Linked DNA regions of Homo sapiens. The protein of the gene in region 2 purifies or fractionates together with the protein of the main gene of each other region. This does not show direct contact. Each region holds a gene or a part of one and is shown on either strand. Other genes may lie near its edges.

Region 1 (3,821 bases), on a different chromosome or scaffold from region 2:
AATGTATTACAAGGAAGAAAAAGAGAGAAAGAGAGAACCCAGACCTATAGACATATCAACTAAATGCAACTTATTTGGCTCTTGATACAAACAAACTGCAAAAAAGAAAGTTATGAGGTAAATGGGGACATTTGAACACTGACTGAATAATTGATTATATTAGAGAACTAACGTCAAGTTGTTTAATGTGTGTGGTATTGTTTTCTTTATAAAAAGTCACTACCTTTTAGAGACATATACTAAAATATTTACAGATGAAATACATGGGATTTGCTTGAAAATAATCCTGGGGGGAGTGGGGAGCGCGTGAAGGTATAAACAAAACAAGGTTGGCTGTAAGTTGATGATGTTGGAGCCAGGGAAGGGGTGGCACAGATCATACTGGCTGGGCACAGTGGCTTAAGCCTATAGTCCCAGCACTTTGGGAGGCCAAGGTGGGAAGATCACTTCAGCCCAGCAGTTTGAGACCAGCCTGGGCAACATAGGGAGACTCCATCTCTACAAAAAATTTTTAAAATTAGCCAGGCATGGAGATACACATCTGTGGTCCCAGCTACTCAGGAAGCTGAGGCAGGAGGATCGTTTGAACCCAGGAGGTCAAGGATGCAGTGAGTTGTGATCAAACCACTGCCTTCCAGCCTGGGTGACAGAGTGACCCTGTCTAAAAACACACACACAAACAAAAAGAATTAAGAATCATACTGCTATTTCTTCTTTTTGTATATTTTGATTTTTTCCACAATAAAAAGATGTTAGTTTTTTTTTCAAAGGTGGGTGAGGATTTAAGGAGGAAGAATAGATTAGATTAGAGCTATGCAGTGTCATTTTTAAAAAAGTATTCACATTAGCCAAAAAACATAGAAGAAGCAACAGAGGCAGATGTGGATGGTGTCACCCACGCCCTTCCCCAGCAAAGGGCCCAGTGCAAGGGCCTTTTTGGGTTACAGAGGCCACCATCCCTGAGGAGAAGGATGCCTGTGGCCATCTTGCCCTGGGCCCATTAGCACCTTCTCTAGTCAGGGCACTGCACTGAAGCTGAAGATAAAATGATGAATAAAATATAGGGACTAAAGTCAAGTGATGTGAAAAGAGAAGTAAGCAGGCCATTACAATGGAATCGGACTTGTGCTATGTTATTACAGAGTGGGACCAAAGTGTGCTGTGAGAGCACAGGTAATGGTGATCTGACTGGAAAAGGTGGCAGCCACGCTGTCCTGGACGATTCCCAGAACTGCCTTCTCATTATCATCCAATTCCCAGGCTCTGTTGCTCTAGGAAGAGGATGTACTCCTGTACAGGCCAGAAGATGTAAGCATCCTGACCTCCTGGCAGCTTGGCTTCTCATTGTAAATGCAGAAAACGGACTTCTGAGAATAATTGGATTTCCCATATGGCTTACTTAGAGGAAGAATACATTAGCCAAAGGACGTGAGTGTCCACTTCTCTGATGTGACAGATCTTATTGTCAAATTAATAAACTGTCTTTCTGGCTTTTAGAGTCTCTGAGAGTCTGGTACCTGTGTATCTGTTGCTGAAAGATACATTAATTTTTGATGTGCTAACAAGTCAGTATTCTGAGATTGCAAGACCAGCCTGAGCCCTGGAGGATGTACCGGGGTAATGTCATCCCTTGGGACATGGCTAGTAGATACTAGCCTCCTCCAGGGACCCCTTTCTGCTCTGTGTGCTTCTTTGATCCTCTGCATTTCTCAAGGGTGGACCCATGTCTGATGCTTCTTTGATATCTGAGTTATCTTCTCTCACCATGTGTGCTACAAAGCATTTTGGTTCTTAACAAATTTGTTTCTTGATTTCTTTCACTCGAATTCAACCTAATCAAAATAGCTAAAATAACATCTATTTGGGGGCAAGTCAGATGGAAACTGTCCATGGAGTATTTTTAAACTGAAACACGAATACTTAAAAAAAATTCATCTGCTGCCTTTGAAAGATCACAACCTTTTGAATAACCATGTTAACTTCATCATCTGCTTTGGCTGTGACGGCCAGTGTTCCTCAAATAAGCCAATCAACTGAGAACCTTTCTCCAACCTATACTTCTAATTAAAGAACAAGAAACCAAACACTGTGAACTCCTTTCCAAATGAAAACGATTTCTTTCATCTCCAGTGGTTTCACTGTCAATCACTTAGATAGGTTCTTTCATCTATAACAAAAGATGGCAAACTTTTTCTGTAAAGGTCCACATAGTAAATATTTCAGGCTCTGTGGGCCCACAGTCTCCATTGCAGCTACTCAACTCTGCCACTGCAGCGGGAAAGCAGCTGTAGACAATATGTAACCAAATGAGCATGGCTATGTTCCAATAAAACTTTGTTTATAGACACTGAAATTTGAATTTCATCTAAATTTCATGGGTCACAAAATACTGATCTTCTTTTGATTTATTTCCAACCATTCAGGAATGTGAAAACCATTCTTAGCCCACGAGACATACGGGCAAGCTGTCAGATCTGGCCCACAGGCCATAGCTTGTCAATGCCTGTCCCATCATGATGAATGCCAGCAATGAGTCGCTATACTACATGAATGTGTATGGTCCCTGTCCCTTCATAATACTCCTTTACCAACCCTGAGAACTAGGACTTATAAGTGGATCTGAAGTTCACAGTTGGCAAATTTAAAATCTTACGGGAAAAATATTTTCATTAAAATTAAACAATGGGCCGGGTGTGGTGGCTCACACCTGTATTCCCAGCACTTTGGGAGGCCAAGGCGAGCGGATCAGCTGAGGTCAGGAGTCCAAGACCAGCCTGGCCAACATGGTGAAACCCTGTCTCTATAAAAATACAAAAATTAGGCAGGCATGGTGGTGTGTGCCTGTAATCCCAGCTACTCGGGAGGCTGAGACACGAGAATTACTTGAAACCAGGAGGGGGAGGTTGCAGTGAGTCAAGATCACACCGTTGCACTCCAGCCTGGGTGACAGAGTGAGACTCCATCTCAAAAAACAAAAACAAAAACAAAAAAACTTAAACAATGGTCAGCACACTTAAAAAAAAAAAAGAAAGGACATTTTACCTATCTTAAGTCCCAAATAGTGGGAACTATGTAATTTGTTCCTAGTTGCCATCCCCTCAGAAAAAAATGGTAAGATCCCTGAGATAGTGGTGAGCTTGTTTTACTCTAACAATACATCTGCTGAGACTTTTTTCAATGTTGGTTTATCCATCCAAATGTTCAATGTCCTGTCTTTCTGGTTTTAAGATTAGTATTTGTAGACCCTCATCTCCTCAGTCCCACCATAGTCCAAGATGGTGGATGATTGATACATAAAAAGCTATAGATTTTGTTTCTTTAATCTAATCTACATATCTACAACACTTGCAACACCCTTCCCCACTTGCAAATATTGTCCTGTCTATGATAGCTTTCTAGGCATTCCTAACAAACACTTTAAGGCTCTATTTTCCTTGTGTTTTGTTTCACTTCAAATTTCATTGTATACTTCTTTACTACTGCAGACTTTCTCTTTTAACTCTCTTTTTATTTCCAGTCCCAGGGTTTCTCTTTTTTTCACCATCCACAACAGTTGTCACTTGAATGAGGCATATATTTGAACTGTGTTTCCCAGTTACGTCCTTTTCCCAGTTGAAAGGTCCCAGCATCATATTCCCAAGTGAACCCACATGGGTTCATTGTACTTTCTCTTTTGTGCAGGGTTGAAAATGTCCATAATAAAAAAGATTTTATAAAAATAGAGCATACATTCCTATACTCTAGATTTGGTCACAAGAGGAATTTGTGGTTGGGAAGAAATTAGCATATTCATATGCCACACCACTCCCTGGCATGCCCTC
Region 2 (3,821 bases):
CTTTATAGGCTGCAGGGCCCTTTAGTTAATGGGCGTATTTGGGGTATGGGCTGGGCAGAGCTGCCAGTACATGGAGTAGAGCTGGGTATATGATCTGGAGGCCTTACTATGTGCTGAGCCCTAAGCACAAGGGTTGCTGGGGTCTCTTGAACAGTGCAGGGGCCTGTATGCCACAACTCACCCAGTGACAGCCCCATTTAACACGAACAGCATAAGTCAGCACTGGCGCCCTCCCCAGAGGCTGTGATAACAAACTGATGAGAGTCAGTATTTATGGAGCATTTACTCTGTGCCAGGCACTGTTCTAAGCATGCGATATATGTTAACCCATTTAATCTTCATTAAACCCCATCGAGTGGGTACTCTTAGTCTCCCATTTTATGGGGTGAGGAAACTGAGGCACGAAGAGGCATTTCCAAGGTCACTGATTTTGTCTCCTCTCTCGGGATGGGGAATGGAGCAGTCAATACCAGCTCATAGTCTCTCCACCTTAACTCACAGAGGCCTCTAAGTGGGTGGACTGTGGCCTGGGGGTAAGACCCAGAGGCAGCCAGAGCCTCCTTCCAGGCCTCAGTCTTCCCTGGGCCTGGTGAGGAGGGTCACCTTAGTTGGTCGTGATCATGCCCTTCCACAGCTCCCTCCTGCAGACAGCAAAACCCACTCTGCTCAGCCTGGAACGAAAGGCCCAGGCTATGTGGCCTCCAGCCACTTTATCAGATCTGCCCAGCCTGCCCTTTCTGCTCCAGCCCTGTGGTACCCACTCCATTCCCAGATGGCCTGCTACAGCTTGCTGCCTCAGTGCTGCTGTTGCCCACCAGGCTACTTCTATCCAGTGTGCCAAGGGTCCCTGCCCTTGAGAAGCTGATGGTATGGAGGGGGCTGCCATGCTCAGAGCTAACTGTTGGAGTCAGCAGGCTAGGGAAGTGATACTGCCGATGGACAGAGACTGAGAGAGCACAAAGGAGGGGGTGGGCAACCAAGGACAGCTTCCCAGAGGAGGTGGCACCAGGCTGGACTTTGAAGGATACATAAGAGTTCAACAGAGAAGGAGGAAGGACATGAGGAGAGCTATCCTGTGACCTCAGTGGGTCTGGTGGGACTGAGGTGCAAGTGTAGAGGCAATGTGGGCTGTCCACCAAAGAGTATCTTCCCCTTATTCTGTGCCAGGAGGACCACAGGTTTGCTCCAGCAGCAATATACCCAGCCCCAGGGAATGGATGGTGATTGGTTTAAGCAGCCATGCAATTCCATACTCCTTTGCCAGTGTTGGTCCACGTATTCTGGCCAGTGAGATGTCAAAGAAAGAATGATCTCTGTCATAAAGGAGAGGCATGTCGGCAGCATGCCCTCTCTGCTCATGCTAAGCAATACCCGGAGCTAGGCAGCCACCTTGTGACCATGGGGAAGATAGGCTGACACACACACACAGGATGGTATGGAAAGATGGGAAGAGGCTGGGTCCCTGAAAACATCAATAAGCATCAAACCAACTTGAAAAGGCAAACTCCACATTTCTTTTTTAATGAAATGGTAGATATTGATATTCTTTAGTGAATATTCTCCAAAAAAGGTCTTCAAACTAATATAGAAGGTACAAGACAGACAAGGCCAGAGAGCAGTCATGAATGGCAACACTGGGCACAGCCAACACCCTTCCTGGGGATCTTCAAAACTCTTGCCTCTTTACTCCTTGAAATAATTTTGAAACACCCTCTACTCTCTCACACATTTTTAAGCTGACATCTAGACATGTTTTATTATATGCTGATATAAATGCTTTTTTTTGCAATAGGAGGTAGAAATGTTAAAATTTTATAAGACGAAATAAGATGAGGATTAACCATAATTGAACTAAATATTTCATGACATGGCTTCATAGAATAGTTTTTAGCTGCTTTGTTAAATAATACACATTCAATTAGTTAAGAAATTAGGTAAAGTTTTATATACAGGCTTTATCCAGTGTATGGTGGTCTGGGAAAATATTGTAGTTATTAAAAAATATCTTCTTCACTAACTTATACTGTTTTGATTGTTCTGAATTCAGAACATCACAGAAAGAAATAATACCCAAAGGAAGAGGGGAAGCCCTACAGGTTTAAGATGGCTTAATTAGTCACTAAATGAGGCTCACTCTAAATCAAATCAGGGCTGCCTTAATCAGCCCCCTCCCACCTGCCCCCTAAATTTCCAGACAGCTCTGAAAACCCAGGCTGGATTAGACTGGAGGTATCACAAGGGTCTGTGACTTCTCCTGTCTGCTCTTTTCCTGCCCCTCACTCAGGCCTGGGGGTAGGAGCTCACAAAGACCAGATGACAATTACTCAGCTTGAGCTGATCTGTGCCCTGGGGAGGAGATGGCCCTTTGCACTGAGCTGAAGCAGTACAGCCACACACAGGAGGGGCTGCTGACAGCCAGCAGGAGGGCATCCCTGGACCGATTCATTCCAGTTTCCCACATTCTGGGAATACACAGTCTACCCAGTGCTCTGCCACTCCGGGCTCTGCACCCTGTCCATGCTCGAATTTCACCCTCCACAGCCCCATGAAGCAGGCAAGCCAGGGACTATGATGCTTGTTTCATAAGGCCAGAGAGCAGTCATGAATGGCCACACTGGGAACAGCCAACACCCTGCCCAGGGATCTTCAAAACTCTTGCCTCTTTACTCCTTGAAATAATTTTGAAACACCTTATACTTTCTCACACATTTTTAAGTTGGCAACTAAAATGTTTTATCGTATGTTTATAAATGCTTATGAGGCCCAGAAAGCCTGAATGACTTGTGCAAAGTCCCATAGCTGGTACACAGCAGCAGTGCTCACTGAAGACCCAGGTCTTCCTTCTCCAAGGGCGGAGGTGTCTTTCTCTGTCACCATCTGGTGAGTATTTCCCATCTGAGGGCTCACTGTGGCATTTGTGCTACTTTGGAAGGGGTGTAGGGGTGGGGGTGGAGGCGGACTTGTCACGTGCTTGTGTAGCAGTATGCCTTCTGGTCTTCTTGCTGGTCTAGGGACTTTAATAAGCAGGCAGAGCTGCTGCCTCCAAGTCAAGCAGGTATTTTAGAGATCACTGCTGAAGCCAGGATGCAGGGACATTGGGGAAGGGAAGGTGGGGAACGGGAGGGAGGATGAGGGAGCCTATCCCCTGCCATCCAACTACAGGAGCCAGGCAGCACTGCAGGAGTGCAGTCTGGGTATAATCTGATTCCAGCTCAGGGGGCGCTGGACCTCAGATACTCAAGCCAAATATCCCTCTCCTCCACCACTCCCTCTCCTGGCAGTCTCTCATCCTTGCTGGTTACTGGATTCTTCCTTAGTGAGATGGCTGCTCCCGCTCCTCTTCTGTCCCTGACTGCTGACACACCATTTCTGTCTGCAGTTATTGCTCACCTAGACTACTGCAGTCAATGCTAAGTCCTGCTTCTATTATACCTCTAGATTCTCCCTGCCTCCAGCCTGCGCTGAACACCTCAGGTTCCCACCTAAAAGTGTTATGCTGATGACATCTCTCTTCTGTTCCAAACTGCTGACCAAATCCGACCCAAACATGCAGGCTGGGATTCACAGTCCTCCTGAGATGCCCCAACCTGGGTTCCCAGCCTCAGCCTCCATCGCTCCCCAGCCTGTGTTTAATGCTCCAGCCCCTGCGCTGCTCCCTAGCCCTACCTGCTTTTCTCTTTGGTGCCTTTTCCCTTCCCTCAGGCACCACCAGTTCTCTCTCTCCTTCCTCCTCTGTGTGTCTGAAGCCTAGTCACCCTTCCAGACTCCGCTCCAAAGCCCTCTCAACCATGGAGCTTGCCCAATTCTGCCTTCCTCTCACC

Evidence for each region.
Region 1: the proteins of ABCC8 (region 2) and RAPGEF4 purify together in Homo sapiens (affinity purification with western blotting, with the first as the bait; one study listed by BioGRID). This does not show direct contact.

Annotation. Positions count from the first base shown.
Region 1 is NC_000002.12:172,738,535-172,742,355, reverse strand, and holds part of RAPGEF4 (rap guanine nucleotide exchange factor 4), read right to left. Parts: intron 1-3,821.
Region 2 is NC_000011.10:17,470,330-17,474,150, forward strand, and holds part of ABCC8 (ATP-binding cassette sub-family C member 8), read right to left. Parts: intron 1-3,821. UniProt on the Homo sapiens protein: Regulator subunit of pancreatic ATP-sensitive potassium channel (KATP), playing a major role in the regulation of insulin release.